7 linked regions of the Homo sapiens genome follow. The protein of the gene in region 1 purifies or fractionates together with the protein of each later gene. This does not show direct contact. Each region holds a gene or a part of one and is shown on either strand. Other genes may lie near its edges.

Region 1 (4,490 bases):
GGCTAGAGTGCAGTGGCGCGCTCTGGGCTCACTGCAAGCTCCGCCTCCCGGGTTCACGCCATTCTCCTGCCTCAGCCTCCTGAGTAGCTGGGACCACAGGCGCCCGCCAGCACGCCCGGCTAATTTTTTGTATTTTTAGTAGAGACGGGGTTTCACCGTGTTAGCCAGGATGGTCTCTATCTCCTGACCTCATGATCCTGCCACCTCAGCCTCCCAAAGTGCTGGGATTACAGGCGTGAGCCACCGCGCCCGGCCTGAATATTTTTTCGTATGTTATTTGACCATTCTAATTCCTTGTTTTGTGGATTATTGCTTTGTGCCTTTTGCCTATTTTTCTAGCATGTTCATTCTTTTCCTATTGATATTTACAGGTGATTTACATATTAAGGACTTTTTGTCCAATATATTGCAGTTGTTCCCCCTACTGTGTTGTATACTCTAGTTTTGATTGTAATTCCTTTTCTTGGTTGTTGTCTAGGAGTTTTCCATTTTGTGTAATTTATGTAGCAGAAGTTTTTTCTTCATAGTTTTTCTATCTTTGGTGTCAGGTTTAAAGAAAAATCTTCCTCTACTCCAAAATTGTATAAATAATCATCTGTATCTAGTATTTTCATGGTTTCATTCTCTAAACTTATTTTTTTAACCCATCAGGAATGTATTTTGTCATTTATTTCGAAGATGTAAGTTTTTCTTACCAAATGATTAGCCAGTCTTCTTAGCGCCGTCCATTGAATAATGAGGCTTTTCATACTGTCTTTGTTTTTTTTTTTTTTTTTTTTTTCGAGATAGGGTCTCACTGTCACCCAGGCTGGAGTGCAGTAGTGCAGTCTTGGCTCACTGCAGCCTCAACCTCCCGGGCTCAAGCGATCCTCCTGCTTCCATCTCTGAAGTGGCTGGGAATACACACATGAGCCACCACGCCTGTCTAATCTTTTTTTTTTTTTTTTTTTTTTTTGAGACAGAGTTTTGCTCTTGTCTCCCAGGCTAGAGTGCAACGGCGCCATCTCGGCTCACTGCAACCTCCGCCTCCCAGGTTCAAGCAATTCTCCTGTCTCAGCCTCCCGAGTAGCTGGGATTACAGGCGTGCGCCACCACGCCCAGCTAATTTTTTTTATTTTTTATTTTTAGTAGAGACAGGGTTTTGCCATGTTGGCCAGGCTGGTCTCAAACTCCTGACCTCAGGTAATCCACTTGCCTTGGCCTCCCAAAGTGCTGGGATTACAGGCATCAGCCACCACACCCAGCCAATTTTTTTAAAGTTTTCATACAGGCAAGGTCTCAGTGTTTTACCTGCATTGGTCTTGAATTCCTAGGCTCACGCAATCCTCCTACCTCAGTCTCCCAAAGTGCTGGCATTACAGGCATGGGCCGCTGCACCCAGCTTCATACTGGCTTAAAATCCCTTTCTTATCATAAACTGAATTTGTAAGTATACATGCGCATGTTTTGGTCTTTCTATTTTATTCTATTAAATTGATCTGTCTATTCCTGCTTTATTACCCAACAGATCCTGTATTAAAAGTAACTCTAGCAGTGTCTGATCTTCAAAAGTCCTTGAACTACTGGTGTAATCTACTGGGAATGAAAATTTATGAAAAAGATGAAGAAAAGCAAAGGGCTTTGCTGGGCTATGCTGATAACCAGGTGAGCAATCTTGGAGAAGAATAACCTGTTACTTTGAATTTGGCTTGTAAACGAAGCTTATAAATGGCTTATAACCTTTATAAATGAAGTTAACATGAAGGTTGTTCCCATAGTTTCTTCACAGTGATTCAATATTTATATAGATAAACAGAAGAAAATAAGTGATAACCTTACCACCCAGATATTACCTTGTTTATATTTGGGGATATATCTCTTCAGAAGTGGAATTGCTTAATCCAAGAGATTGAATGGATTTAATGCAAGATCTTTTTCATCTTCTTTTTCTAATAACCCAGCGTTTGAGCACGATTTAGTCCTTGCACTTTGACCCTGCAATTCTACTCCTAGGAATTATTTTACAGATGTGCTCAACATACATCGGCACAAAGAAGTGTGTGCAAGGTTATCTGCTGCAGCATTGTCTGTAATCACAATGTGTAAGAATTTCAGTGTCCTATAGATTAGAGACATATTTCAGTAATTTACGGCTCATTCATGGAATGGATTACTATGTCGCTAGCAAAAAGATTGAGGCAAATCTTTATGTATTGACATGGTAACATTAAGTGGAGAAAAACAAGGAACAGAATAATTTGTAAATTATACCACCATTTGTGTAAAAAAAAAAACATAGATGCGTGCAGTGCTTCTAGAAGGATACACAGGAAAGTGTGGACTAGTTGTCTCTGGGGTGAGAGTAGGATAGAGACTCAGTTTTTACTTTATTCCTTTAGTATATAATATTTGAATTTTTCTACCACATACGTGTAATGAATGTATAACCTGTTCCAAAAAATAACCCCCTTTCCTATTTCAGTGTAAGCTGGAGCTACAGGGCGTCAAGGGTGGGGTGGACCATGCAGCAGCTTTTGGAAGAATTGCCTTCTCTTGCCCCCAGAAAGAGGTAACGCTTGATACCAGATCGTTTGAGCTTTCTGACTAGCTAGTTCAACCCAGCTAAGAACTTTGTCCTTCCCTTCTTGAGGTCCTTTTTGATTGTGGCTTTAGTATCAAGTTCAGCAGTTGTTTCAAGAGCAGCTGAGATAATAAATTCAAACAAATGGCGCCTTGGTTCTTTATGGTATCTGATACTCCTCTAGGACTGACGAGGGCCGTGTCCTGAGTAGTGTGTGACCCCTGGCTCACGTTGCCTCTGTTTTCCTCAAGTTGCCAGACTTAGAAGACTTGATGAAAAGGGAGAACCAGAAGATTCTGACTCCCCTGGTGAGCCTGGACACCCCAGGGAAAGCAACAGTACAGGTGGTCATTCTGGCCGACCCTGTAAGTATTTCTCAGGCAGGGGGCAGGCTGGACCAGGGGTTTCTTCAAGGATGTCTTTGGCAGGTGTCTTTTCTCTTTATTGGTGTAGGACGGACATGAAATTTGCTTTGTCGGGGATGAAGCATTTCGAGAACTTTCTAAGATGGATCCAGAGGGAAGCAAATTGTTGGATGATGTGAGTCCCATTTCTACATTTATGTCACCATGGGCCTGAGAGGGATGGCATTAAGTGTGTGTGGGAGGAGACTAAGCAACAGGGTCCAGGTTCTTAATGTCAGAACCACGTCCTTTCGCTGTTGGGTTGACCTCAGCCAAGGACCGATGTCTTCACTGCCACCTGTGTAGACTGCTTGTCTAGACTTAGCATTTGTGCCTTACCACAACCTCAGGCTGCCCTGGAACCACTGCTGGTGGATCTGTGCTTATTCTGCTCTCCACATGGAGATGCCTCTATCCGACCCCCTCAGCTCTCCCCATGGAGATGCCTCCATCCGACCCCCTCAGCTCTCCCCATGGAGATGCCTCCATCCGACCCCCTCAGCTCTCTGCATGGAGATGCCTCCATCTGACCCCCTCAGCTCTCCCCATGGAGATGCCTCTATCCGTTCCCCTCAGCTCTCGCCAGGGAGATGCCTCCATCCGACCCCCTCAGCTCTCCCCATGGAGATGCCTCCATCCGTTCCCCTCAGCTCTCCGCATGGAGATGCCTCCATCCCATCCCCTCAGCTCTTGCCATGGAGATGCCTCCATCCGTTCCCCTCAGCTCTCCCCATGGAGATGCCTCCATCCCATCCCCTCAGCTCTCCCCGTGGAGATGCCTCCATCTGACCCCCTCAGCTCTCCCCATGGAGATGCCTCCATCCGTTCCCCTCAGCTCTCCCCAGGGAGATGCCTCCATCTGATCCCCTCAGCTCTGCAGCTCCTTTGATCATCTCTTCTCCATTCTGCAGCATCAGTCTCTTCTTTCCAGTGAGTTATTCTCGCCAGCGTGCAAACAGGCGCTGAAAGCTCCCATCCTTTAAAAACCTTTTACTGACCCCATATCTCCTCTCCAGATTTCTCCTTCTAAAAATCTGAGTGCGCACTGTTTCTCTCTCTCACATCCTCTCCAGATTTCTTCTTCTAAAAATCTGAGTGCGCGCTGTTTCTCTCTCTCACATCCTCTCCAGATTTCTTCTAAAAATCTGAGTGCGCGCTGTTTCTCTCTCTCACGTCCTCTCCAGATTTCTTCTTCTAAAAATCTGAGTGCGCGCTGTTTCTCTCTCTCACATCCTCTCCAGATTTCTTCTAAAAATCTGAGTGCGCGCTGTTTCTCTCTCTCACGTCCTCTCCAGATTTCTTCCTCTAAAAATCTGAGTGCGCGCTGTTTCTCCCTCTCACGTCCTCTCCAGATTTCTTCTTCTAAAAATCTGAGTGCGCGCTGTTTCTCTCTCTCACGTCCTCTCCAGACTTCTTCTTCTAAAAATCTGAGTGCGCGCTGTTTCTCTCTCTCACGTCCTCTCCAGATTTCTTCTAAAAATCTGAGTGCGCGCTGTTTCTCTCTCTCACGTCCTCTCCAGATTTCT
Region 2 (3,304 bases), on another chromosome or scaffold:
GCGAGAATGTCTGGAACATTCTCTATCCCAAAGAAGGAAAGCATAGTGCTGGGAAGAAGAGCTTCCAAATCTTCCTTATAGGAATTTTCTTTGTGGAAGACTGTATTTCTGCCAACTACCCCGGACAATTTGACAAATAATGAATAAATATTTTTCCTCTAACGTGATTCCTTTTCATTAAAAGCGTATGTCATTGTCTTATGGGAAAAAAGGAAACAAAAGATAGAATTGGAAAAAAAAAAAAGGTCTATCTGTGTGAAGGCTACATATGACAAGTACTGGCGGCTTCCTGATCCAGCAACATTAGCAATTTATTGTATCTAGAAAATGAATCTCTGGATGCAGAGTTTACAGAAATCGGCATCCACAGAAAAGTCAGGGAGGACTTAACATGGGCTATGCCACTTAAGGAGAACAGAATTTGCCAAAGAAAATAATGTTTCGAGTTTTGTTGTGCCTGATGATGTAAATAAAGGGATGGTCAGCATTCAATTCATCCTTGTGCTGCAGGATCCGTGCTCCTGGCACCTCTATGGAATCCCCACCATCTTCAGTTATTTCTAAGCACACTTTGTGGATAACATTTGATAGGGCCACTCCCTTGGTCTCTGACATTCCAGAGAAATCAGATGTGTCTTCACTGAAGATATGTTTCAGCCCTAGATTTTCCAGACAAGCCTTGGGATCAATCATCTTTTCCACCTTAAATTTTGGAATGGAGAGTTTGACCTTGGCATTGGCCATGGTGCTGGGATTAGTCCACTGTGACAGTGACTCTGAGTTGAGTTGTTTTTCAATCTGAAGGACAAAAATGAAAAGAAATTATTTTTATTTATTTCCAACTGTAAAAGACCTGGCTCAATTGAAAACATAAGGTGTTATGATAAGCCCAGCTTCAAAGCAGTCTGGGTGGAACATCAAAGATGGCCCAGAAGTTTTTGGTATGTGACTCAGGAGACCCAGCAGCCACCCAGCTGTGTCCTCCTCCTCCCCAGCCTATAACAGTGTTCCATGTGCACTGAAATTTATGAGGACAGGGTTCTGTTTTTTCATTTTAAGTTAGAGAGTAGTTTTTTGTTTGTTTGTTTGTTTGTTTGGGTTTTTTTTAGACAATCTTGTTCTGTCACCCGGGCTGGAGTGTAATAGTGTGATCGTCGCTCATTGCAACCTCTGCCTCCTGGGTTCAAGCAATTCTCGTGCCTCAGCCTCTCGAGTAGCTGGGATTACAGGCACACTCCACCATGCCCAGCTAAATTTTCTTTTGTATTTGTAGTAGAGACAGGGTTTCATCATGTTGGCCAAGCTGGTCTCAAACTCCTGGCTTCAAGTGATGTGCCAGCCTCAGCCTCCCAAAGTGCTGGGATTAAAGGTGTGAGCCACCGCACCCAACCTTAAGTTAGAGAGTAGATTTATAGAAACAAATGCCTGGATCATGATGTTGCATACACAATAGTGAAATGAATATAAAATTAGAAAGCTTTTTACACATATTTCTTGAATGCTTATTGTAATTTCTCTACGAGGAAATCCAGAATATTCATGTACTAGGAATGGCATCAGATTTAGAAAATTAAATTAAAGCTAAAGTTACTTTTTTTTTTTAATGGGAATTTGAACTAACTCTGAGCCATGCCCTAGGGTCATAGGTAGTGAATGCATCCATTTTAGCTGTTTTAAAAAATGAGAGAGATGCGGCTGGGCGCAGTGGCTCACGCCTGCAATCCCAGCACTTTGGGAAGCCGAGGTGGGTGGATCACGAGGTCAGGAGATCGAGACCATCCTGGCTAACACAGTGAAAGCCCGTCTCTACTAAAAATACAAAAAATTAGCCAAGCGTCGTGGCAGGCACCTGTAGTCCCAGCTACTCGGGAGGCTGAGGAAGGAGAATGGCATGAACCCAGGAGGCGGAGCTTGCAGTGAGCTGAGATCATGCCACTGCACTCCAGCCTGGGGGACAGAGCAAGACTCCATCTCAAAAAAAAAAAAAAAATCATTTCCAAAACTCAAAAGGTCATTTTCTTTAGTTCTATACTTTAAGAAGAAAATAATTGAAAGCCAAAATTGACAAATGGGATCTAATTAAACTAAAGAGCTTCTGCACAGCAAAAGAAACTACCATCAGAGTGAACAGGCAACCTACAGAATGGGAGAAAATTTTTGCAATCTACTCATCTGACAAAGGGCTAATATCCAGAATCTACAAAGAACTCAAACAAATTTACAAGAAAAAATCAAACAACCCCATCAACAAGTGGGCAAAGGATGTGAACAGACACTTCTCAAAAGAAGACATTTATGCAGCCAACAGACACATGAAAAAATGCTCATCATCACTGGCCATCAGAGAAATGCAAATCAAAACCACAATGAGATACCATCTCACACCAGTTAGAATGGCGATCATTAAAAAGTCAGGAAACAAGAGGTGCTGGAAAGGATATGGAGAAATAGGAACACTTTTACACTGTTGGTGGGACCGTAAACAAGTTCAACCACTGTGGAAGTCAGTGTGGCAGTTCCTCAAGGATCTAGAACTAGAAATACCATTTAACCCAGCCATCCCATTAGTGGGTGTATACTCAAAGGATTATAAATCATGCTGCTATAAAGACACATGCACACGTATGCTTATTGGAACACTATTCACAATAGCAAAGACTTGGAACCAACCCAAATGTCCAATAATGATAGACTGGATTAAGAAAACGTGGCCCATATACACCATGGAATACTATGCAGCCATAAAAAATGATGAGTTCGTGTCCTTTGTAGGGACACGGATGAAGCTGGAAACCATCATTATCAGCAAACTATCACAAGGACAACAAACCAAACACTGCATGTTCTCACTCATAGGTGGGAATTGAACCATGAGAACACCTGGAAACAGGAAGGGGAACACCACACACCAGGGCCTGTTGTGGGGTGGGGGGAGGGGGGAGGGATAGCATTGGGAGATATACCTAATATAAATGACAACTTAATGGGTGCAGCACACCAACATGGCACATGTATATACATGTAACAAACCTGCACATTGTGCACATGTACCCTAAAACTTAATGTATAATTAAAAAAAAGAAAAATAAATTATTGAAATAAAAAAAGAAGAAGAAGAAGAAAATAATTGATGTTTATTGGAGGGCGTTTTAAGAACGAAAGGTAAAATCCAAGACAGCTGGATAATGGCTGAAAGATCAAAGCATAAAATGGAAAGAAAAAAAACAGAGAGAGTAATGCACCAAAGAAGAAGAAGGACAGGAATTATAATTCAGTTAATAAAGTGGTGGCTAAAACATAATGG
Region 3 (4,490 bases), on another chromosome or scaffold:
CAAGCATGAGCCACTGTGCCTGGCCTTTTCTTTGTTTCTATTACCACGACCAAGTCACCAGCTTATCTCACCTGTACACAGGAACAACCTCCTAACTGGTCTTTTTGATCCTCTTTTACTCGCCTCCATTTCATTGTCCACTTGGCATCCAGACTGATTTTTTTTTTTCTTTAAACACAAATCTGATTCTATTACTCCCCTGCTCAAAATACTTCAATAGCTCCCCAGAGCAGAATCCAAATGCCTACCTTGCATACAGGCACTTCACAATCCGGCTCTGGCCTGCTTATAACCCTCTCTGTTCTCCCCTTCCTTCCCTTCCCTCTGTGTCCTTTTCAGGTCATACCTTTCTCAAATTCCTCTGCACTTTTCAACTTTTTTTTTTTTTTTTTTTTTTTTGAGTCGGAGTCTCCCTCTGTTGCCCAGGCTGGAGTGCAGTGGTGTGATCTCGGTTCACTGCAACCTCCGCCTCCCGGGTTCAAGGGATTCTCCTGCCTCAGCTTCCTGAGTAGCTGGGACTACAGGTACCTGCCACTATGCCTGCTAATTTTTTTATATTTTTAGTAGAGATGGGGTTTTGCTATGTTGGCCAGGCTGGTCTCGAACTCCTGACCTCAGGTGATCTGCCCACCTCAGCCTCCCAAAGTGCTGGGATTACAGGTGTGAGCTATCATGCCCAGCCAGACTTTTCAACTTTTTTATGCCACTTCCTCCACCTAAAGTTCTGTTTTCCCAGCTATTCCAGCCTCAGGTTGAGTCCTCGCATAAGGTTCCTAAGGTTTCCTAAGTTTCCCCCAAAAGGGAAAACCCAAAGGTTACATTATCCCCTACTGTAGGGAACAGTGTAAGGTGACCTAGCTGGTCAGAGGTGGCCTCCAGACTCTGTACTAAGAGGGCTGTTTGAAACCAGAACCCCCCCCCAGGTGCTGGTCCAGCAGTTCTGGTTCCCCCAGCCTCTGCTTCAGAAGCCTTGTCATCCTGATGTCCACATGTCATCTCAGTCCAGCAGCCCAAGGCCCAACAGCTATTCTCAATTCTTCTGTGACTCTGACTCAAAGATCAGACCTTCTGTAAATGATGCAGTTCCACGACTGCTCCCGGCAGTCCCTGGACCACCACAAAAGGCCATTTGGGACTAGAAAAAGACCTTGCTTGTACATCCAGAGACTGGGTTTTGACTTCACTCTGGCTCTAACTCATTGTGTGAGACTGGGCAAATCACTTCCTCTCCCAGGGCCTCAGATGTGTCATATTTAACATAGGAAGCAGGGCCAGCTTAGTGTAGGAGCATCTATGATGCTACTTCCTAATTCCTACAACTAAAATATATATTAGAGAAACAGTCTTATTTAACTACTTTCTGAGTAGAATACATTAAGCTTTTGCCCTGGGTACTAACTGAGGCAAAGAAGAAAACCCTTCTGGCTACACAGAGGTACATGCAGATGGATGCTAACAAGATCAAATACAATCGCATGCATTTGCTAAGGTTGCTAAGATATTCAAATACACAAAGATACTTGTGCATGCTCACATGCACTTATGCACTCACACTCAGGAGAAAAGCCCTGGTGGCCAAATAGATGCTAAGAAAATATTTACATACACAGATCTACATACATTCACACAGATACATACTTGTACAAATATGCACACAGATATGCAAACACACATGCACACATTCACACACTCCATTTATATACCGACTTTCCTTTCTCATTCCTTAGTTTCTTCAGGTTTCATGTGACTTAATCTACTTTGGATAAATAACTTCATTTATCTATTGCTACAAGTTAAGCCAAAACCATGCAGTCTAGAAACAGACCCACTTACATGGTGATTTGATTGGACAAAGATACCACTGCAATGCAGCAAATAAAGGTTTTTTTTTCTTGCATTAAGGTTGTTGAGTCAACAGTATATTCATATGGGGAAAAAATGAACTTTAACCCCTACCAAATCCACACACAAAAAAATCAATTCCAGATGAATCATAAACCTAAATATGAAAGATAGAATAATAAAGCTTCTACAAGATAACAAATAGAAGGATATCTTCATGACCTAGAGACAATTTTTTTTTTTTTTTTCCTGAGACAGAGTCTCATCTCTGTCACCCAGGCTGGAGTGCAGCGGCTCAATCTCAGCTCACTGCAACCTCCGCCTCCTGGGTTGTTCAAGTAATTCTCCTGTCTCAGCCTCCCGAGTAGCTGGGATTACAGGCATGCACCACCATGCCTGGCTAATTTTTGTATTTTTAGTAGAGACAGGGTTTCACCATGTTGGCAAGGCTGGTCTCGAACTCCTGACCTCAGGTGATCCACCTGCCTTGGCCTCCCAAAGTGCTGGGATTATAGGCAGGAGCCACCGCACCTGGCCTGACAGACAAAGATTTCTTAAACTGAACACAGAAAGCACTAACCATAAAGGGAAAGATTGATAAGTCAGACTTCATCAAAATTAGGAACTTCTGTTCAGGCCAGGTACAGTGGCTCACACCTGTAATACTAGCACTTTGGGAGGCCAAGGTAGGAGGATCACTTGAGCCCAGGAGTTTGAGACCATCCTGGGCAACATAGGGAGACCTTCCTCTCTACAGAAAAACTAAAAATTAGCCAGGTGGCCGGGCCCGGTGGCTCACGCCTGTAATCCCAGCACTTTGGGAGGCCGAGGCGAGCAGATCACCTGAGGTAGGGAGTTCGAGACCAGCCTGACCAACATGGAGAAACCCAGTCTCTACTAAAAATACAAAATTGTCCAGGCGTGGTGGCGCATGCCTGAAATCCCAGCTACTCGGAAGACTGAGGCAGGAGAATTGCTTGAACCTGGGAGGCAGAGGTTGTGGTGAGCTGAAATCGTGCCATTGCACTCCAGCCTGGGCAACGATAGCAAAACTCCATCACACACACACAAAAAAAAACCAAAAAAAAATTAGCCAGGCATGGTAGCATGTTCCTGTACTCCCAGCTACTTGGGAGGCTGACATGGGAGGAGTCCTTGAACCCAGGAGGTCAAGGCTGCAGTGAGCCATGATCCCTGAAGACTAGAGCCACTGAACTCCAGCCTGGGTAACAGAGTGAGATCCTATCTCAAAAATAAAAAAGAAAGAAAAAAATTTTAAAAAGAAAGAAAAGAAGAAAATATAAACTATAAAAAAAGAACTTCTGTTCAAAATATACTATTAAGAGAGTAAAAAGGCAAGCCATAGTGTGGGAGAAGATGTTTGGGATAGATATAACCAACAAAAGACTCATATCCAAAACATATACAAAACTCCTATAAATCAACAAGAAAAAGACAACCGGCCGGGCACCATGGCTTACACCTGTAATCCCAGTACTCTGGGAGGCCGAGGCAGGTGGATCACCTGAGGTCAGGAGTTTGAGACCAGCCTGGCCAACATGGCGAAACCCTGTCTCTACTAAAAACCTCAAAATTAGCCGGGCACGGTGGCACACACCTGTAATCCCAGCTACTCAGGAGGCTGAGGCAGGAGAATCACTTGAACCCGGGAAGTGTAGGTTGCAGGGAGTGAAGATTGCGCCATTGCACTCCAGCCTGAGCAACAAGAGTGAAACTCTGTCTCAAAAAAAGAAAAAGAAAAAGACAACCTAATTTTCTAAAATGGACAAAATTAGAGCAGTCTAAAGAGGATATCCAAATGGCCAGTAGGCACATGAAAAGGTGCTCAACTTCATTCATCATCAGGGAAACACAAATCAAAACCACAGTGACCAGCCTGGCCAACATGGTGAAATCCCATCTCTACAAAAAATACAAAAATTAGCTGGGTGTGGTGGTGCGCACCTGTAATCCCAGCTACTTGGGAGGTTGAGGCACAAGAATCGCTTGAACCCAGGAGGCGGGGTTGCAGTGAGCCAAGATCGCACCACTGCACTCCAGCCTTGGCAACAGAGTGAGACCTTGTCTCAAAAAAAAAAAACAAAAAAACCCACAATGAAATGGTACTGAACGCTCACCAGAGTAGGCCAAAACCAAAACAAAGCCTGGTGTGGTGGCTCATTCCTGTAATCCCAGCACTTTGAGAGGCCGAGGCAGGCAGATCACCTGAGGTCAGGAGTTTGAGATCAGCCTGGCCAATATGGTGAAACACCGTCTCTACTAGAAACACAAAAATTAGCCAGGCATGGTGGCGGGCGCCTGTAATCCCAGCTACTCGGGAGGCTAAGGCAGGAGAATCGCTTGAACCCAGGAGGCAGAGGTTGCAGTGAGCCAAGATCATGCCATTTCTCTCCAGCCTGGGCAACATAGACTCTGTCTCAAAAAAAGAAAAAACAAAACAAAACCAAAACCTGACAATAACAAGTGTTGGGGAGGACACAGGGTAACTGGCAGTCTCCTACACAGCTGCCTAGAGTGGAAACTGGCACAACGACTTTGGAAAGCTGTCAGACAGTACTGCTAACGCTGAGCCCAGGAGGTACCCCACTTCCAGGTATATACCCAACAGAAACATGCACATATGTCTG
Region 4 (4,412 bases), on another chromosome or scaffold:
TCAGTGGTAAGTTAAGCACAAAAATGTACAAAAAGCCATCTCTTGTGTTCCTTTTGAAAAATTTTAACTATAAAAGTAGATTTATGGCATGTGAACTTTAAGATTCTCAGTGCTTTACAAAAATGCTCCCATCATGTAAAGTGGGAGAACCCTTGTCTATACCAAGACACTTTATGTTTAAACCATCTACTTCCAGTTTTTCTACTTCAAAGTAAATATTTATATAGGTTGAACATCCCTAATCCAAAAATCTGAAATTCTCTAAAATCTGAAACTTTCTGAGCACCAGCATGACATTCAAAAGAAATGTGCTATGGAGTCAGATCTTCCGATTAGGGATGCTCAGACAGTAAGTATAATGCAAATATTCCAAAGTCTGAACAAGCCTGAAATCCACAACGCTTCTGGTCCCAAGGATTTCAGAGAAGGAATACTCAAGCTGTGTATTAAATATGCACACACAGGAAAAGGTAGGCACATATACAAAGAAATTTAAACCATAATGGGTCGTCTCTGGTTAGTGAGCTCTTATTTCAATCTCTTTGTACTTTCTAAAATGAGTATGTATTTCTTGAAAAATCACTAAAACTGGCTGGGGGTGTTGGTTCATGCCTGTTGGGAGGCCAAGACAGGTGGATCACTTGAGCGCAGGAGTTCAAGACTAGCCTGGGCAACGTGGAGAAACCCCATCTCTACAAAACATATAAAAATTAGCCAGGCATGGTGCCATGTGCCCAGGAAGCTGAGGTGGGAGGATCACCTGAGCCTGGGGGAGGTTGAGGCTGCAGTGAGACGAGATCAAGCCAACACATATCAGCCTGGGCAACAGAGATGAGACTCTATCTCAGAAAAACAAAAAAAAACCAAAAAACCCGAACCCGGAAACATTAAAAATAGACTTGTGCTAAGCGAGTGAAGTGTGATTTCTATACACTATCAAGAAATGGCCTTCATGAGAAGTCCTGAAAATGACCTACTGCCTGAATCACAGACACACTAGATGATAGTGAGAGTCCAAAGGTAACTTCCACAGACACAGCTAAGTGATTATACGACTCTTACAAGCTATGAAAAGTTTAAGGGTAAAAGCTTTCTATCTTCATTATTTCTGAATCTTAATGCCCAGCGGAAATGCCACACAGGTGAACTGTGCTTGTGTGGAACAAGGCTGCGACCCCCCTACCACACCCTCGGCTGGCTGTTCCCAGGACGCTGCTCACCGTGTGTGGAAAAAGGCTGCGACCCCCTACCACACCCTCGGCTGGCTGTTCCCAGGACACTGCTCACCCCAACCCCACCTCCATTTCTGCCCTTCTCTGCTTGCTCAGTGCCCAGGGGATGCTAAAGGCTGCACCACATCCCCTCAGCTCCCCTGCAGACGCTTCCAGTTGGCCCAGCCCGTGGGAGGAGAGGGGAGGTGTCTCTTCTGGGCTCCCTTAACGTGGGACTGGTTTCTGGTAATGGCTGTGTGTCCCCACCCCACAGATGCTTTCTCGCTAGGTCCACAATCATCATCTCCTCCCCTACCACCAGGCCTTGGACACTTGCTCCTGCCCAGTGACGTCCATCTGGCGCACACCACGGAGCAACCCTTCCTTAAGGCTCCTCTGAACCACCTGCAGGAACTGGATTCTGTTTCCAGCCCGAAGCCCGACTGCTGTCGGAGTGCCTTTTTCAGCGGTGCCTCGAATCTGTCGGGAGTTGATTTAAATCTGGCCTGCTCTTCCCCGTTCACCATCAGCAAGGCCAGCCCGCAGGCCTGGGCGGGGCCGTGTGGGTGCTGGGCTGTGGTGAGAACGAGCTCCACACTGACCTTCCCAGTGCCAACGTCCACATAGGACAGGGTGTGCTTCCTCCAGTGCTCCTCAAAGGGCTTCTTCTGTTGCCCCTGGATGGGCTTGGAGTAATCGTACTCATCAATCCGCACCTGAGGCCAGAAACACCATCACGTTTCTTATTACTCTAACAGAGCAATACAGAAAAAACACAGCAGACATTAACATGATCTAAGAGACAGATGCCCTAGAACTCATTCCATTTCCACTTCAGCCCAGGAGGTTGGCACCATCAACATGTTCAGAACCCACGGAGGCCGCATGGCTGGCCAGGGGGTGTGCAGCCAGCAGTGAGTCCACAGTAATCCATGTCCGCATGTTCCCTTAAGCATCCTTTATGTACCTAAGAGTTTATCAAATACTTTGTCTTTTTGCTCCATGTGCTGGGAGACTACCTCAATCTTTTCTTTCAGCCTGTTTTTATTAAAAAAAAATTTTTTTTTTGAGACAGGGTCTGGCTATGTCACCTGGGCTGGAGTGCAGTGGTGTGATCACAGCTTGCCGGAGCCTTGACTTCCCAGGCTCAATCAATCCTCCTGCCTCAGCCTCCTGTGCTACCACCACACCTGGCTCATTTTTTATGTTTTTGTAGAGACACGTTTCGCCATGTTGCCCAGGCTGGTCTACAACTCTGGGGCTCAAGTCATTGGCCTGCCTCAGCCTCCCAAATGCTGGGATTACAGGTGTGAGGCACTGCACCTGGCTTCTATTCTAATTAAAACTGACTGTGACCAACTAAATTTATGCACTGGCCAGGCACAGTGGCTCATGCCTGTAACCCTAGCACTTTGGGAGGCCGAGGTGGGTGGTTCACTTGAGGTCAGGAGTTCGAGACCAGCCCGGCCAATATGGTGAAACCCCATCTCTACTGAAAATACAAAATTAGGCATGGTGGCAGTGTGTCTGTAATCCCAGCTGCTTGGGAGGCTGAGGCAGGAGAATCACTTGAACCCGGGAGGCAGAGGTTGCAGTGAGCTGAGATCACGCCACTGCACTCCAGCCTGGGGGACAGTGAGATTCCTTCTCAAAAAAATAAAAATAAAAATAATAAATTTACTATTATTCTGTATTCTGGCAAACACGGATTCATATACTTTGCAGGAAACTCTTAATACATACAAGGAGACAAGAGCAAGTTCTGAGCAGTGATCACAGCCATCAGCATATTCTAGTGGAGGGTAAATCAGTAAAATTTCATGGTGAATAAAAATGATTTTCCCATTCACCATGTTCAGCTGACTGGAAAGGCTGCCACCAGCCGCCTACACACGGTCCTGAACCAGCCTGTGCGCCTGCCTTGTGGAGCCTTTGTCCTTTTGCTGATGTGGTTTATCCTGAACTTGCATTTGCATCCCAAGCTTCCCTTTCCGTCGTTTTTTGCTATCATATGGGAAAAACTCTTACCAGGCAGAATCCAACACGTGCGCTCTGCACAAAAATCAGTTCATCTGAAGAACAAGTGACCACAGGGCAGGCTCTATAATACCTTTTCCAAACCACAGGACAGGTCTGAAATGGTGGCTTACTCCTTATTTAATAAACTGGCATTTCCTCCACAGCGCAGGTCTGAAATGGTGACTTACTCATTAATAAACTGGCATTTCATCCACAGGGCAGGTCTGAAACAGTGACTTACTTGTTAATAAACTGGCATTTTCCTCCACAGGGCAGGTCTGAAACGGTGGCTTACTCGTTAATAAACTGGCATTTCCTCCACAGGGCAGGTATGAAACGGTGACTTACTCGTTATTTAATAAACTGGCATTTCCTCCACAGGGCAGGCTTGAAACGGTGACTTACTCATTATTTAATAAACTGGCACTTCCTCCACAGGGCAGGTTTGAAACGGTGGCTTACTCGTTAATAAACTGGCATTTCCTCCACAGGACAGGCTTAAAACGGTGACTTACTCGTTACTAAACTGGCATTTCCTCCACAGGGCAGGTTTGAAACGGTGACTTACTCGTTAATAAACTGGCATTTCCTCCACAGGGCAGGTTTGAAATGGTGGCTTACTCGTTATTTAATAAACTGGCATTTCCTCCACAGGGCAGGCTTGAAACGGTGGCTTACTCGTTATTTAATAAACTGGCATTTCCTCCACAGGGCAGGCTTGAAATGGTGGCTTACTCCTTATTTAATAAACGGGCATTTCCTCCACAGGGCAGGCTTGAAACGGTGGCTTACTCGTTATTTAATAAACGGGCATTTCCTCCACAGGGCAGGCTTGAAACGGTGGCTTACTCCTTATTTAATAAACTGGCATTTCCTTCACAGGGCAGGTTTGAAACGGTGGCTTATTCGTTAATAAACTGGCATTTCCTCCACAGGACAGGTTTGAAACAGTGACTTACTCGTTAATAAACTGGCATTTCCTCCACAGGGCAGGTTTGAAACAGTGGCTTACTCGTTATTTAATAAACTGGCATTTCCACCACAGGGCAGGTCTGAAACGGTGGCTTACTCGTTATTTAATAAACTGGCATTTCCTCCACAGGGCAGGCTTGAAACGGTGGCTTACTCGTTATTTAATAAACTGGCATTTCCTCCACAGGGCAGGTTTGAAACGGTGGCTTA
Region 5 (4,490 bases), on another chromosome or scaffold:
CCTCTGGCACTGCTAGACCTGGCTGGGTAGCTAAGTGGGGGGCAATTGCCTGACCTTGGCTTTGACAGGTTTATTCTCTCCAGACGGTCAGGAGGACAGGTGGACGTGTCCACAAATGTGTCTCATCCTCGCAACAGCTCTGAGGATTTCCTGGGGACTCCACCAGTGGCCGGGGCACCCAGCCCTCCTCCCCCAGCACTAGTTTGTTCTTGGCCAGTATAAGGTTTTGCACAGTTGACCTTATAAGCAGGGCTGACCCCAGCTGAGCCCGAGCAGCAGGGGGAGAAATCCACTGTGGTCAGCAGTGTGAGGGCAGTCACCTAGGAACAGCAGAGCAGGTCGGGGCTGGAGCTTGGGACTGCAGAATTCTGTGTGACATCAGAAGCTCCTGGGCCAGTTGTCACATGGAGTCCCAGGCCCCATTGGCAAGACCCAGAAATCTGCATTTTAACAAGTTGAGGGGGACAGTTCCACACTTGGGATTGAGGACCTCTCATGCCATCCTGAGGGTCCCTTTTCCCCCAGGACGAAGGCTGCCCTGTCTCTGCTTCTCTGAGATGCCTAGTTAAAAGGATATGACAAGGACGAGGGACAACAAGCAAGTGAACCTCCCTATCCCAGGAGACCTGACTGCAAGGCTGTGGGGACTTGGGGGAGGTGGGGCGGCCCTGAGAGTGCCTGGTCAGCTTCCAGACTGAGGCAGTTCCCCAGCCCGCTCAGGGCCAGGTGGACTGAGGTCACAATGAGGGATGTAGGTCTCAGCCTCTCAGCTAGAAGGCAGGTTGCAGTCAAATGTCACCTGGTGATGAATGGGAGGCAGCGATAGTTCTGGAGGTTGAGGGCAGTTGCAGGTGATTCCAAGGGGACTTGGGACACCCAGGTCCTGGCCCAGGACCAAGGACACCAGCCTCCCTAGCGCACCCTCCACGCTTCTTCCCCAGAACCTGCACTGGCTGCAAACACATCAAAAAAGAAAACATTTCAGGGCCAATTCATTTTTCTCAAAACATATATTTACCCCTCCTCTCAGTACATCTTTGAGCACCTTTCCCAGAATCTCAGGAATGTATAGACCCCCGCCCCACACTTCATACCCGCCCTAGGCCTTGGTGATGAGGCCCCTCACAGCTTGTGCAATGGCATCCCTGTCGATACCAAACATCTTCAGCAGCTCAGCCGGCTTCCCACTTCTTGGTACCCGGTTAACTGCCAGGTGGGTGACAGTGATGCCAGGCTCGCCCACTACTGCACTGGACACAGCCTCACCAATGCCACCTAGAAATGAAAGGAGGGGAGTCAGAAGACGAGGCCTCAGGGTGAGCAGTGGTGGGCCCAGCCCTCTGTCAGCCTTAGTCAAGGATGGAGGAGGCTGCATATGCACTGCCTTTCTCCACCTGTAGCCATGAGCCCATCACATAACTCATTGATTTTTTTTATTTTAAAGAGACAGACAGGTATCACCATGTTGCCCAGGCTGGTCTCCCAACTCCTGAGCTCAAGAAATCCGCTGTCCTCAGCCTCCCAAAGTGCTGGGATTGCAGGTGTGAGCCACCATGCACGGCCCAGAACTATTTTTATAAGCCCAAATATGGCCTCTAAATGTTTGTTTCAAACACCATTGTTGGTGACCAGCCAGCCACTGTCCATAGTCCAATTATCTACATTTGACCCCAGAGTCAAAGCCCATCTCTCCCACTGGGGCCTCCTACTTAGAGAGGCTGGTGTGTACTTAGGGAGCCTGCTGTGTGAAGGACTCACAAATACCAGAAATTCTGCATTGCTTCCCAAGCTGCACCATAGCTTCCACCCTACACTACCTCAGGGACGCCACCATCCACCATTTAGCAGCGAGGTTGGAATCCTCACCAGCTTCCTGGGCAGCAGGAGCTCCACAGAGCTCATCAGCAGCTGTGAGTTAGCTAGGTCCCCAGGCCAAGCCTGAGGCCTTTTAAGAGACCACGTCCCAGCTGCTCTGAGGGACAGCTCTGGGTGTTCTGGGCCACAGCTGCCCTCCTGGGGCTCAGATAGAAGAGGCACGTCCAACGCTCGGCTCTCTGGCCCTGTCCCTTGCCCAGCCTGCCTGCCCCAGGCCTCCTTACCTTCATAATAATGGTCCTCCACGGTGAGGATCCTGCCCTTGGTGGCACGAGCGCTGTCGAGAATGAGTTTTCTGTCCAGGGGCTTGATGGTGAAGGGGTCCAGCACGCGGATGTTGATCTTTTCTGTGAGGGAGAGCACACGGCGTGGCTGAGGGGAGGGCTGGGCACCACTATCTGCCCTGGTGGGGGCCTGGTGGGACATCCTGAGGGCTGCGTGTAGCTAAGAGCTCAGCCTGCGGGCCTGTCCCTGTCCCAGGGAGAACCACTTGCCACCTCGTTCCCATGGCTGAGCTCATGCTTGCCAACCCCTTGCACTGGGGCATCTGGTCCAGCTGTGTTGCCCGCAGTATCCAAGAACCCAGAGCGGAGCGTGCAGGCCCTGAGCGCCTTCCCTCATCCTCCCACAACCTTGAAGACAAAGGGAATGCGAGAGAAAACACCCCAGGTGTCTGGCCTGATGGAAGGTGAGGCTTGATGTGGTGACGTTGGGGAGCTGCAGCCCGCAGAGTGATCAGAGGCCCACGTGCGGCCCCAGCAGCAGAGGCACCTTCTCAGAAGGACAAACCCACGCTTGCCAGGCCCTGCTTAAAGCTCACCCCCCTGGGTCTCCCCCTGCCTGGGGATGGACTCCTCTGGCTCCTCCAGCCCCATCTTGCTCCTGCCTGACCCTCCTCCGGCCTCCCTTCACTCTCCTCTCTGCTAATCAATTCCTACCCACTCTGAAGCCACTTTCTGGAAGATGCCACACCTGCCCCCTCTTTCGTGCTAAAACATGACATCTGCTGTGTGATTCTATTGCAGGAGAGGCCAATGCCTGTCTCCCCTACAAACCACTAGCCAACACTGTGAGCTCGCAGTAATAATAATAGAATACCAAGTCACATGCATGTAACCCTCAGGAGAGCTCTGAGGGCAAGGGGCTAGTATCTCCATTTTACAGATAGGAAAACAGGCATGGTGACAGTGAATAACTTACTTCCTTAACTAGTGCCTGGCTGAGTGATTCCAGCCCAGCTGGCAGGCTCCAGGCCACTGATCTGGCCACCATGCTGGGGGGGTCTCGACTTTAGAGTCATAGGGTAGGGACTGTGGGCACTGCAGCCCCAGGACTTAGCAACATGCCAGACAGAACAAGTGCTCAAAGGATGGCTATAATTGCTATCATTATTTAATGAAATGAAATGCTTTCTCTCTAGCTGTGAGCTCTTCAAGAAAGAACAGAAAGAACGAAAGAAAGAACCCCAAGACCTAGCATGCAGTGGCCGCTCAGTTGATGACTTTGGAGGCCCCTTCTCCTCACCTTTCTTCAGCAGTTCGGCAGCGGCCAAGGCCTCGTGCAGGGTCACCCCAGCCCCGATAACGGTCACCTGGTCATCCTTGCTCTTCAGGACCACCTGGGGGTGACACAGAGGGTGAGTAAGGCTCAGGGCCCTGGGGCAGGGTGTGCCCTGACTGCTGGGAGTCACAGCAGGGAGGGTCCAGGCAGCTCTGTGGGCTCCTGGGGCATGCGAGGCACTGACCTTGGCTTGTCCGACCTGGAAGTCCTCATTGTTGTTATAGATGATGGCATTTTCTGGGCGGCTGGTCCGGATGAAGCAGATACCCTGAGACCGAAACAGATAAACTGAGGATACAGGATGTGGCACACCCAACCTCAGAGACGAGGTCTTTCTAGAGAGGCCATCCCTTCCCATGGGAGCGTTAGTTACTGCATCCTGGCTACTCCAGCAGGGAAAAGGGCCTTGCTTGCCCTCTGCCGCCCGCACCCCACTTGAACACTCTGAGAACTGCCCACCACCTTGCAGCCTCAGACCGAAGGCAACTTTCCACCAGGTAGACTGGCTGCAGGTGGGCTACTCCCACAGACTGCACCAGGCAGAGGGGCAGGAACCACGCGCACTGGGTCTGTGGCATGCAGCTCCGGGCCTGGACCACAGGGCTCAGCTCATCCTTGCCTGTCTTGGAGAACCCAACTCAGGAGGGTGGAGAGGTGTCAACCGCTGGACCGGCCAGGGCTGCCAGGATTCTCAGCAGAGACAGACTGGCAATCAGTTGACAATGTCTGCCACGTGGCAGTAAGTGGGGTGTGTATTTCGTTTTTTCTTGTCTAACTTCCACAAGCTACACGAACACCAGGGGCAAGGTCAGGAAACACCCCCTGGGGCAGCAAGTGACCAGCTCTGGCCTCCTCTTCTGTTTCCCTTGGGAAGTGATGGCTGCCAGCAGGAGAAAGAACAGCCATGCAACCTACCTTTGTATTGGCGGCTAGTTCCACTGCCTTCTCTGTAGCAACGCCATCACTTGGGTAAAAGACAGTTGATGTGGGGACTGACCGAAACATAGCCAGATCTTCTAGGGCCATCTGGGAGGGCCCGTCTTCCCCTGGGGTGT
Region 6 (4,490 bases), on another chromosome or scaffold:
AATATAGATAAAATTTGATATGGCCTTTCCTAATTCCCCAAATTTAACTTCACAGACCTGAAGATTAAAACAGACCTACAAAAAACAAAAAAGAATAACCCTCCTTATAAATATTGTTCATATATATTTAAGTATGAAAAGCTTCACAAATTTGTGTCTCATCCTTGTGCAGGGGCCACACTAATCTTCTCTGTATTGTTCAAATTTTAGTATATGTGCTGCCAAAGTGAGCACAATATTGTTCACATTTTAGGGGTAGGTGCTAATAATTTCTGCTTTAAAATTGCACCATGTAATACTATGCAGCCATAAAAAGGATGAGATCATGTCCTTTGCAGGGACATGGATGGCTGGAAGCCATCATTCTCAGCAAACTAACACAGGAACAGAAAACCAAACACCGCATATTCTCACTCATAAGTGGGAGTTGAACAATGAGATCACATGGACACAAGGAGGGGAACAACACACAGCAGGGCTAGTTGTGGGTGGGGGCAAGGGGAGGGAGAGCATTAGGACGAATAGCTAATGCATGCTGGGCTTAAAACCTAGAGGACAGGCTGATAGGTGCAGCAAACCACCATGGCACACATATACCTATGTAACAAACCTGCATGTTCTGTACTTGTAGAACAGAACTTATTAAACAAAACAAAACAAAACAAAAACTCCACGTATTTAATTCCTCTTCTTTTACCCACTTCTTCATACTATACATTCAGTTCCTTAGATCTTGGTTAATGGAATAACTTACCTGTTGGATCTCCTGTTTGAACCATGAAACCCTTGATATTCCTATGAAATATACAGCCATTGTAGTAATTACTGGCACAAAGAGCCAAGAAATTCTGAAGGGAGTAAAAATGATTGAGAAATGATGCAGCAGAAACCCAGTTAAGACAAAAAACCAATCATATTTACTGAAAACGTGATAGCAGCATATTTAAACTATGACTGTTGTCATTACTTTGGATGTCATTTCCCTGCCTACAACACTTCAATAGCTTCCTTCTCCTCTTGAAATAAAATACAAAATCTTTCGCCGGGCATGGTGGCTAACGCCGGTAATCCCAGCACTTTGGGAGGCCGAGGTGGGTGGATCACGAGGTCAGAAGATCGAGACCATCCTGGCTATGGTGAAACCCCATCTCTACTAAAAATACAAAAAATTAGCTGGGTGTGGTGGCAGGCGCCTCCAACTACTCTGGAGGCTGAGGGAGGAGAATGGCGTGAACTTGGGAGGCGGAGGTTGCAGTGAGCCGAGATCGCACCACTGCACTCCAGCCCGGGCGACAGAGACTCCGTCTCAAAAAAAAAAAAAAACAACCAAAAACAAAAAGAAAATCTTCAGCAGGGCCTAACAAGCCCTGCAGTACCTGGCTCATCTCCTCATCACATATACTAAGAACTGCTTTCTTGTTGCTTACTACCTAAACTCCATCAGCATTCTGACAATTAATCCAAAAGGGGCAGCTTTTCTTACCTGGGGTACTCTGTACCTGAGATTTCTATATCTGGAATGTTCTTTTTTTTTTTTTTTTTTTTTTGTAGAGACAGTGTCTCCCTATGTTGCCCAGGCTGGTCTTGAACTCCTGAGCTCAAATGATTCTCCTGCCTCAGCCACCCGAAGTGCTGGAATTACAGGTGTGAGCCACCGTGCCTGGTCTTGGAATTTTTTAAAATTTTATTTCACAACCTTTTCTGAATCTGAATACCTGGAATATTCTTTCTATACCTCTTTCCATGGAGATGCCCTCATACCTTTGCATTTAATTTAAGTATTAGTTTATTGGCTACACCTGCCCTCACCTTCTTCCTTTCCCATTATTCTCTATCTCAACACTTAATTTTTTTCAAGGCATTATCATCTTTTAGAATTACTTAATTTTAGGCCAGGCACAGCAGCTCACACCTGTAATCTCAGCACTTTGGGAGGCAGGAAGATCACTTGAGTCCAGGAGTTCAAGACCAGCCTGGGCAACATAGTAAGACCTCATCTCTATCTTTAAAAAAAAAATAAATAAATGAAAATAATTTCTTAAAAATATAATTACTTAATTTTCCTGCCCTGCTTATTTTTACAACTAAAATATTGGCTCCATGAGGGTAAGGAATGTCTGTTGCTCATCACTGTATCTCCAGACTCTGGGGCAAGATAGCCTTTCACGAATAATGGGTTTCTTGTTTCGTTTTGAGACAGGGTCTTGCTCTGTCACCTAGGCTGGAGTGCAGCAGTGTGATCAGAGCTCACTACAGTCTTGACCTCCTAGGCTCAAGCAATTCTCCCACCTTGGCCTCCCTTGTAGCTGGGACAACAGGGTCACACCACAACATCTGGCTAATTTTTGTATTGTTTTGTAGAGATGGGGGTCTCACTATATTGCCTAGGTAAGCCTAGAACTTCTGAGCTCACCTTAGCCTCCCAAAGTGCTGGAATTATAGATGTGAGCCACCATGCCCAGCCATAAATAATTGCTGAATAAATGAATATATACAGGTGACTCTTCTTCCTTCCATCCTTGTCATTTAAACAGGTGACACAGGCCGGGTGCAGTGGCTTTGGGCAGCACTTTGGGCAGCCAAGACGGGTGGATCACCTGAGGTCAGGAGTTTGAGACCAGCCTGATCAACATGGTGAAACCCCATCTCTACTAAAAATACAAAATTAGCTGGGCATGGTGGCTGGCGCCTATAGTCCCAGCTACTTGGGAGGCTGAGGCAGGAGAATCCCTTGGACCTGGGTGGCGGAGGTTGCAGTGACCCAAGATTGGGCCACTGCACTCCAGCCTGGGCAACAAGAGCAAAACTCTGTCTCAAAATAAATAAATAAATAAATAAAAATAAACAGGCGAAATAATGTATAGAACAGGCCAGGCATGGTGGCTCACGCCTATAATTCCAATACTTCAGGAAGCTGAGATGGGACGATGGCTGGAGACCAGGAGTTCGAGACCAAGTTGGGCAACATAGTGAGATCTCGTCTCCATAAAAATTTAAAAAAAATTAGCCTGGCATGGTGGCACACGCCTGTAGTCCTATCTACTTGGGAGGCCAAGGTGGGAGGATTGCTTGAGCCCAGGAGGTTGAGGCTGCAATGAGCCGTGATTGCACCACTGCACTCCAGTCTGAGCGACAGAGCAAGACCCTGTCTCAAAAAAAAAAAAAGTATACAACAATTCTTTAATATAATATCCTGCCGGGCATGGAGGCTCATGCCTATAATCCCAACACTTTGGGAGGCTGAGGCAGGCGGGTTACCTGAGGTCAGAAGTTTGAGACCAGCCTGGTCAACATGGTGAAACCCCGTCTCTACTAAAAAAATATAAAAATTAGCTGGGCATGGTGGTGGGTGCCTGTAATCCCAGGTACTTGGGAGGCTGAGGCAGGAGAATCGTTTGAACCCCAGAGGCGAAGGTTGCAGTGAGCCAAGATCATGCCACTGCACTCCAGCCTGGGTGACAGAGCAAGACTCCGTCTTGAGAAAAAAAAAAAAAAAAAAAAGGCCAGGTGCAGTGGCTCATGCTTGTAATCCCAGCACTTTGGGAGGCTGAGGTGCATGGATCACCTGAGGTTAGAAGTTTGAGACCAGCCTGACCAACATGGTGAAACCCTGTCTCTACTAAAAATACAAAAATTAGCCAGGCATGGTGGCGCACGCCTGTAATCCCACTTACTCGGGAGGCTGAGGCAGAAGACTTGCTTGAACCCAGGAGGCGGAGGTTGCAGTGAGCCGAGATCGCGCCATTGTACTCCAGCCTGGGGGACACAGCGAGACTCCATCTCAAAAAAAAATAATAATAAATAAATAAAAAAAAAGAAAGAAAAAAGTAATATAATGTCCTAATGATTACGTTTCCTGAAGAAAATTAGTTCAAAAGAAAAAGATACTGGCTACTCTATCGTTACCGAAAAATTATCTACGTTCTCTTTGATCCACCTTTGACATTGGACAAATAAGTGGAAATCAGGCCAGAAGTTAGGATGGCTAGTTTTCCCTAACAATGGTTTTACAGAAAGTTTTGTTGTTGTTATTTAGGTTAGATTATTCAATTCCAAAGTGCTTATCTTGTTGTATTAACTGATGTTGAATATGTAAATAATAGTACTTACCTCACATGTTTTGGGTGTCCTCTCACAGAAGACTTCAATTTTAATATCACCTACATCTGTATGCAGTGTCACAGACTAAAAAGGAGAGAAAATGTGAGAACAAATGAAATTTATTTAGGTGACTTTATGCATTGTTTATTTCCCTGTGTGGATATTCAAGATGATAATCTGAATAAAAACAGACAGAAATACTGCTTCAGAGATGACCCATCCACAAAGCAGCTCTTAGAGGTTAAGTTGTACTTTTTTCTCAAAATTGATCCCAACAGTAGAGAAAAAACTCCAGAATATAAATGTTAGGGTTAAGTAGTATCCATGACAAAAATTTGGAAGTAAATATTTTGATGGAAAGAATTATTTTAACTTTGAATTTTTTATCA
Region 7 (4,490 bases), on another chromosome or scaffold:
CATTTACATATGCCCAGAATGGGCAAATCCACAGAGAAAGGAGACTAGCAGGTGGTTGCCATAGGCTGAGTGAGGAAGGGTTGGGGAGAAATCAGTGGTGTCTACTAATGGGGACAGGGTTTCTTTTATTGGGTGATAAAAATGCTCTAAAATTGACTAGTGCTCTAAAATAGTGATGGTTGCACAACTCTGTGAACATATTAAAAACCAGTGAATTATACACTTTAAATGGGTGAATTGCATGGTATGTGAATTATATCTCAATAAAGCTGTTACTAAAAACAAAAGCGGTCGGGCGGGGTGGCTCACGCCTGTAATCCCAGCACTTCGGGAGGCCAAGGCGGGCGGATCACAAGGCCAGGAGATCGAGACCGTCTTGCTAACACGGTGAAACCCCGTCTCTACTAAAAATTTTTAAAAAATGAATAAATAAATTTACAAAAAAAAGCAAAATATACACTCAGCAAACGTTTATTAAACATTTCCAGTGTGCCACATGGTATGTCAAGCAAAGCCCAAAGCCTATGTATCAAGACACTTCTCAGCTAGGTGTGGTGGCTCATGCCTGTAATCCCAGCACTTTGGGAGGCCAAGGCAGGAGGATTACTTGAGGCCAGGAATTCAAGACCAGCCTGGGCAACATAGTGAAGCCTCATCCTTACAAAAAATTTTTTAAAATTAGCTGGACATGGTGGCTCATGCCTGTAGTCCCAGCTACTTGGGAGGCTGAGGCAGGAAAATCACTTGAGACCAGGAGTTGGAGGATATTATAGTATGCTATGATCACGCCACCGCATTTCAGCCTGGGCAACAGAGCAAGGCTCTGTCAATCAATCAATCAATCAATCTCCCAACCATCTGTAATTTGTAATATAGTGAGATATAAATCTTTATTTCCTAATAGACAAATATTTCAACTCCATTTGCTGAATTCCTTTCCCACTGAATGACAATGCTATTTTTGTTATGAACTAAATTCCCTATAAATACATGGGTCAAACTCTAAACTCTATTATATTCCACTAATCTATTTGCCCAACCTAAAGCAATATACACTGCATAACAGTGTTTCCCATCAGAGATGGACCACTTAAGATAATAACTGTGGTGCCTTAAGATTATAATGGAGGTGAAAAATTCCTATTGCCTAGAGATGTCTTGGTGATCCTGACTCTGTGCAGGCCTAGGCTACTATGTATATTTGTGACTTAATTTTTAAGAAAAAGTTAAAAAAATTTAAATAGAGAAAAGCTTATAGAATAAGAATATAAAGAACATATTTTTGTACATTTGTTCAATGTGTCTGTGTTTTAAGCTAAGTGTTATTACAAGAGTCAAAAAGTTAAAGTAAAAAGTTTAAAAAGTAAGCTAAGGTTAATTTATTATTGAAGAAAAATATTTTATAAATTATAAATTTCAATGTACAGTGTTTATAAAGCCTGCAGTAATAAACAGTAATGTCCTAGGTCTTCTCATTCACTCGCCACATACTAACTGACTCACCCAGAACAACTTTCAATCCTGCAAGCTCCATTTATGGTAAGTGCCCTATACAGGTGTACTATTTAAAAAATCTTCCATGCTTTAAAAAAAAAAAAGTCTTCCACGCTGTATTTTTTACCATATCTTTTATATGTTTAGATGCACAAATGCTTCCCACTATGTTACAACTGCCTGTAGTATTAAGTACAGTAACATGTTGGATAGGCTTGTAGTCTAGGAGTAATAGGCTGTACCATATAGCCTAGGTGTGTAGTAGGCTACACCACCTGGGTTTGTGTGAGTATACTCATATGATGTTTGCACAAACAATGAAATCACCTAAGGATGCATTTCTTAGAATGTATTCTCATCATTAAGTGCCATATGACTACACCACATTGTTTGAATTACTATAGCCTTAAGATATGTTTTGGGTCAGGCACAGTGGCTCACACCTGTAATCCCAGCACTTTGGGAGGCCGAGGAGGGCGGATCACCTGAGGTCAGGAGTTCGAGACCAGCCTGGCCAACATGATGAAACCCCATCTCTACTAAAAATATAAAAAAAATTAGCCGAGTGTGGTGGTGGGTGCCTGTAATCCCAGCTACTCGGGAGGCTGAGGCAGGAGAATTGCTTGAACCCCGGAGATGGAGGTTGCAGTGAGCCGACATGATGCCACTGCACTCCAGAGTGAGGCTCAGTCTCAAAAAAAAAAAAGATGTTTTGATGTCTGGTAGAACAAATAACCTGCTGCCCACTATATACTGAAAATATTTTTTGGTTATTCTTGAGCTTTTTCTGATTCTAAAGCTCATAAATAAATCTGCAACTTTATAAACAGCCCTACTGAAATTTCTACTACAATCTTATGAATTTATAAATAAGTTAGAAGATACTGCTCTACTTCATGCAGGTCTCTGCTAATGTCACCTAGAGTGAGGCCTTCCCTTGTGCTCTATATGAGAGTGGCTCCCCTGGCACTTCCTACTTCCCTTAGTTTAGCTTTGTTTTTTTTTTTAGAGCTTCTCATCATCTGACATCTATATATTTTACTATATTTTTCCTGCCTTCTCTTCAACAACCCCCTCCCCCGCAATTTACCTAATAGGATATAAGCACCATAAAAGAGGGGACCTTAATTTGTTCATAGCTCTACCTGTAACTCCTAGAACACAAAGGACGAGCTAAAATGTTTATAAAATAAAAAAATCTTCAACAGTAAACATTCCAAACGAGGAATACAGTATTACAAGGAATACAGTATTACACTTTTTTTTTTTTTTTTTTTTTTTTTTTTTTTGAGACAGGGCCTGGCTCTGGTGCCCATGCTGGAGTGCAGGGGCAAGACTACAGCTCACTGCAACCTCTGCCTCCTGGACTCAAAGTGATCCTCTTGCCTCAGCCTCCTGAGTGCTGGGACTACAGGTGCATGTCACCATGCCTGGCTAATTTTTGTATTTTTTGTAGCGATGGGGTTTCGCATGTTGCCCACGCTGGTCTCGAACTCCTTGGCTTAAGTGATCCACCCACGTTGGCCTCCTGAAGTGCTGGGATTACAGGCGTAAGCCACTGCACCTGGCCCCTCTTTATTTAGGTCTGGTCTTTTGGTAAAGTTTGAGAGCTTTCTTAACACAGATTTTGTATTTCTAGTTTTATTCATATTTAAAAATTTTGGAAGAGATGGGGCCTCACTATGTTCCCCAGGCTGGTCTTGAACTGCTGGGCTCAAGAGATCCTCCTGACTCGGCCTACCAAAGTACCGAGATTATAGGCATGAGCCACCATGCCCGGCCTTCTTTACATTTTTGTTGGAATGCTATGATCTGCATATTTTGTGCTCATATGCAGCCACTTTTATCTTAGGCTAGAAACAGAAAAAAAAAGAAAACCCTTATTAAACTTGAGAAATGAGTACAGACTAGCCTTCATCTAGTTCAGGACTCCTACCATACCCACACCTTTTTACCTACTTTCTAGTCACAAAATAACTTTTCATCATTCTGAGCACACCACGTCCTTCCATGACTCCTTGCCTCTGATGTCATTCTGAGGCAGGGCTGAAATGAGAGACACCAGAGTGAGACCTTGCTTTAATTTATTTTGATGCCAAAGCTACCAAATTCTATTCTAAGAGAAGATCAGGCATGTAACAGTGTTTTTAAATTGCCGGCAGCAACCCATTAGTGGATCATGGCCATCATTTAAAAACGCTAATCTGAAGAATATCAGCACATATCACACAGAGTGAGGTCATTACTGCTTTATGAAACTTCTGTTACATGAACATATATGTGATGAAAAAAACTTATATGTCACTAAAACAAAATTGGAAATACACTGACATTTATAAAATGTATTGAGGAAGAGAAACTTGGCTTAAGTGTGTGGAGAGGGGAAGATGGAATAGGACGATGAGGGAAAGGAAGGAAGTAATAGCAACAAGGTTCTAAGAAGTGTTATTGAAGTGTGAGTCAGCAAAGACCTCAACTGGGCCAAAGCAGACAAGAGAAAGAGTTCTAAGGAAAATTTACACAGACTCTACCTCTATAAAATGACACTGAACTATTTGAAAAAAAGAAATCATATTTGCTTTTACCCATTTTATTCAATATCATTTTCCTGAGAAATATTAAACATTAAAACTTGGAATGTTTTGCTTTAAAGTTGCATCATAAATCATTCTTACCTTGCTCTCTCTTTCTAATTCACTTCGCAGCCATTCAAAGTCACTGTATCTTCTTCTAACAGTAGATTCTTTCAGCTTGAAAATAGGAAGATTTGTCTGAAACAAAAAAAGTTAGTCCTAAATTGAAGCACATTAAGGAAACTTCAAAAAAATGGGGGGACGGGTATGGCAAAACAAAAGAAATCATGACTTTCTTTTTCTTTTTTTGAGACAGAATCTCCCTTTGTTGCCTAGGCTGGAGTGCAATGGCACGATCTCGGCTCACTGCAAACTCCACCTCCCAGGTTCAAATGATTTTTCCGCCTCAGCCTCCCAAGTAGC

What was found.
Region 2: the proteins of GLOD4 (region 1) and SERPINB5 fractionate together in Homo sapiens (co-fractionation; one large-scale study listed by BioGRID). This does not show direct contact.
Region 3: the proteins of GLOD4 (region 1) and FKBP1B fractionate together in Homo sapiens (co-fractionation; one large-scale study listed by BioGRID). This does not show direct contact.
Region 4: the proteins of GLOD4 (region 1) and SDHA fractionate together in Homo sapiens (co-fractionation; one large-scale study listed by BioGRID). This does not show direct contact.
Region 5: the proteins of GLOD4 (region 1) and TKT fractionate together in Homo sapiens (co-fractionation; one large-scale study listed by BioGRID). This does not show direct contact.
Region 6: the proteins of GLOD4 (region 1) and PPIL3 fractionate together in Homo sapiens (co-fractionation; one large-scale study listed by BioGRID). This does not show direct contact.
Region 7: the proteins of GLOD4 (region 1) and SNX3 fractionate together in Homo sapiens (co-fractionation; one large-scale study listed by BioGRID). This does not show direct contact.

What each region holds. Positions count from the first base shown.
Region 1 is NC_000017.11:768,479-772,968, reverse strand, and holds part of GLOD4 (glyoxalase domain-containing protein 4), read left to right. Parts: intron 1-1,507; coding exon 1,508-1,644; intron 1,645-2,461; coding exon 2,462-2,548; intron 2,549-2,811; coding exon 2,812-2,925; intron 2,926-3,013; coding exon 3,014-3,100; intron 3,101-4,490.
Region 2 is NC_000018.10:63,500,824-63,504,127, reverse strand, and holds part of SERPINB5 (serpin B5), read right to left. Parts: intron 799-3,304; coding exon 406-798; 3' UTR 1-405. UniProt on the Homo sapiens protein: Tumor suppressor. It blocks the growth, invasion, and metastatic properties of mammary tumors.
Region 3 is NC_000002.12:24,055,804-24,060,293, reverse strand, and holds part of FKBP1B (peptidyl-prolyl cis-trans isomerase FKBP1B), read right to left. Parts: intron 1-4,490. UniProt on the Homo sapiens protein: Has the potential to contribute to the immunosuppressive and toxic effects of FK506 and rapamycin. PPIases accelerate the folding of proteins. It catalyzes the cis-trans isomerization of proline imidic peptide bonds in oligopeptides.
Region 4 is NC_000005.10:251,908-256,319, reverse strand, and holds part of SDHA (succinate dehydrogenase [ubiquinone] flavoprotein subunit, mitochondrial), read right to left. Parts: intron 1,928-4,412; coding exon 1,814-1,927; intron 1-1,813. UniProt on the Homo sapiens protein: Flavoprotein (FP) subunit of succinate dehydrogenase (SDH) that is involved in complex II of the mitochondrial electron transport chain and is responsible for transferring electrons from succinate to ubiquinone (coenzyme Q).
Region 5 is NC_000003.12:53,224,657-53,229,146, forward strand, and holds the end of TKT (transketolase), read right to left. Parts: intron 4,482-4,490; coding exon 4,351-4,481; intron 3,704-4,350; coding exon 3,620-3,703; intron 3,494-3,619; coding exon 3,400-3,493; intron 2,223-3,399; coding exon 2,100-2,222; intron 1,276-2,099; coding exon 1,100-1,275; 3' UTR 56-1,099; downstream 1-55. UniProt on the Homo sapiens protein: Catalyzes the transfer of a two-carbon ketol group from a ketose donor to an aldose acceptor, via a covalent intermediate with the cofactor thiamine pyrophosphate.
Region 6 is NC_000002.12:200,881,588-200,886,077, forward strand, and holds part of PPIL3 (peptidyl-prolyl cis-trans isomerase-like 3), read right to left. Parts: intron 4,186-4,490; coding exon 4,111-4,185; intron 3,781-4,110; coding exon of another isoform or gene 3,675-3,780; intron 849-3,674; coding exon 755-848; intron 1-754. UniProt on the Homo sapiens protein: PPIases accelerate the folding of proteins. It catalyzes the cis-trans isomerization of proline imidic peptide bonds in oligopeptides. May be involved in pre-mRNA splicing.
Region 7 is NC_000006.12:108,218,781-108,223,270, forward strand, and holds part of SNX3 (sorting nexin-3), read right to left. Parts: intron 4,266-4,490; coding exon 4,170-4,265; intron 1-4,169. UniProt on the Homo sapiens protein: Phosphoinositide-binding protein required for multivesicular body formation. Specifically binds phosphatidylinositol 3-phosphate (PtdIns(P3)).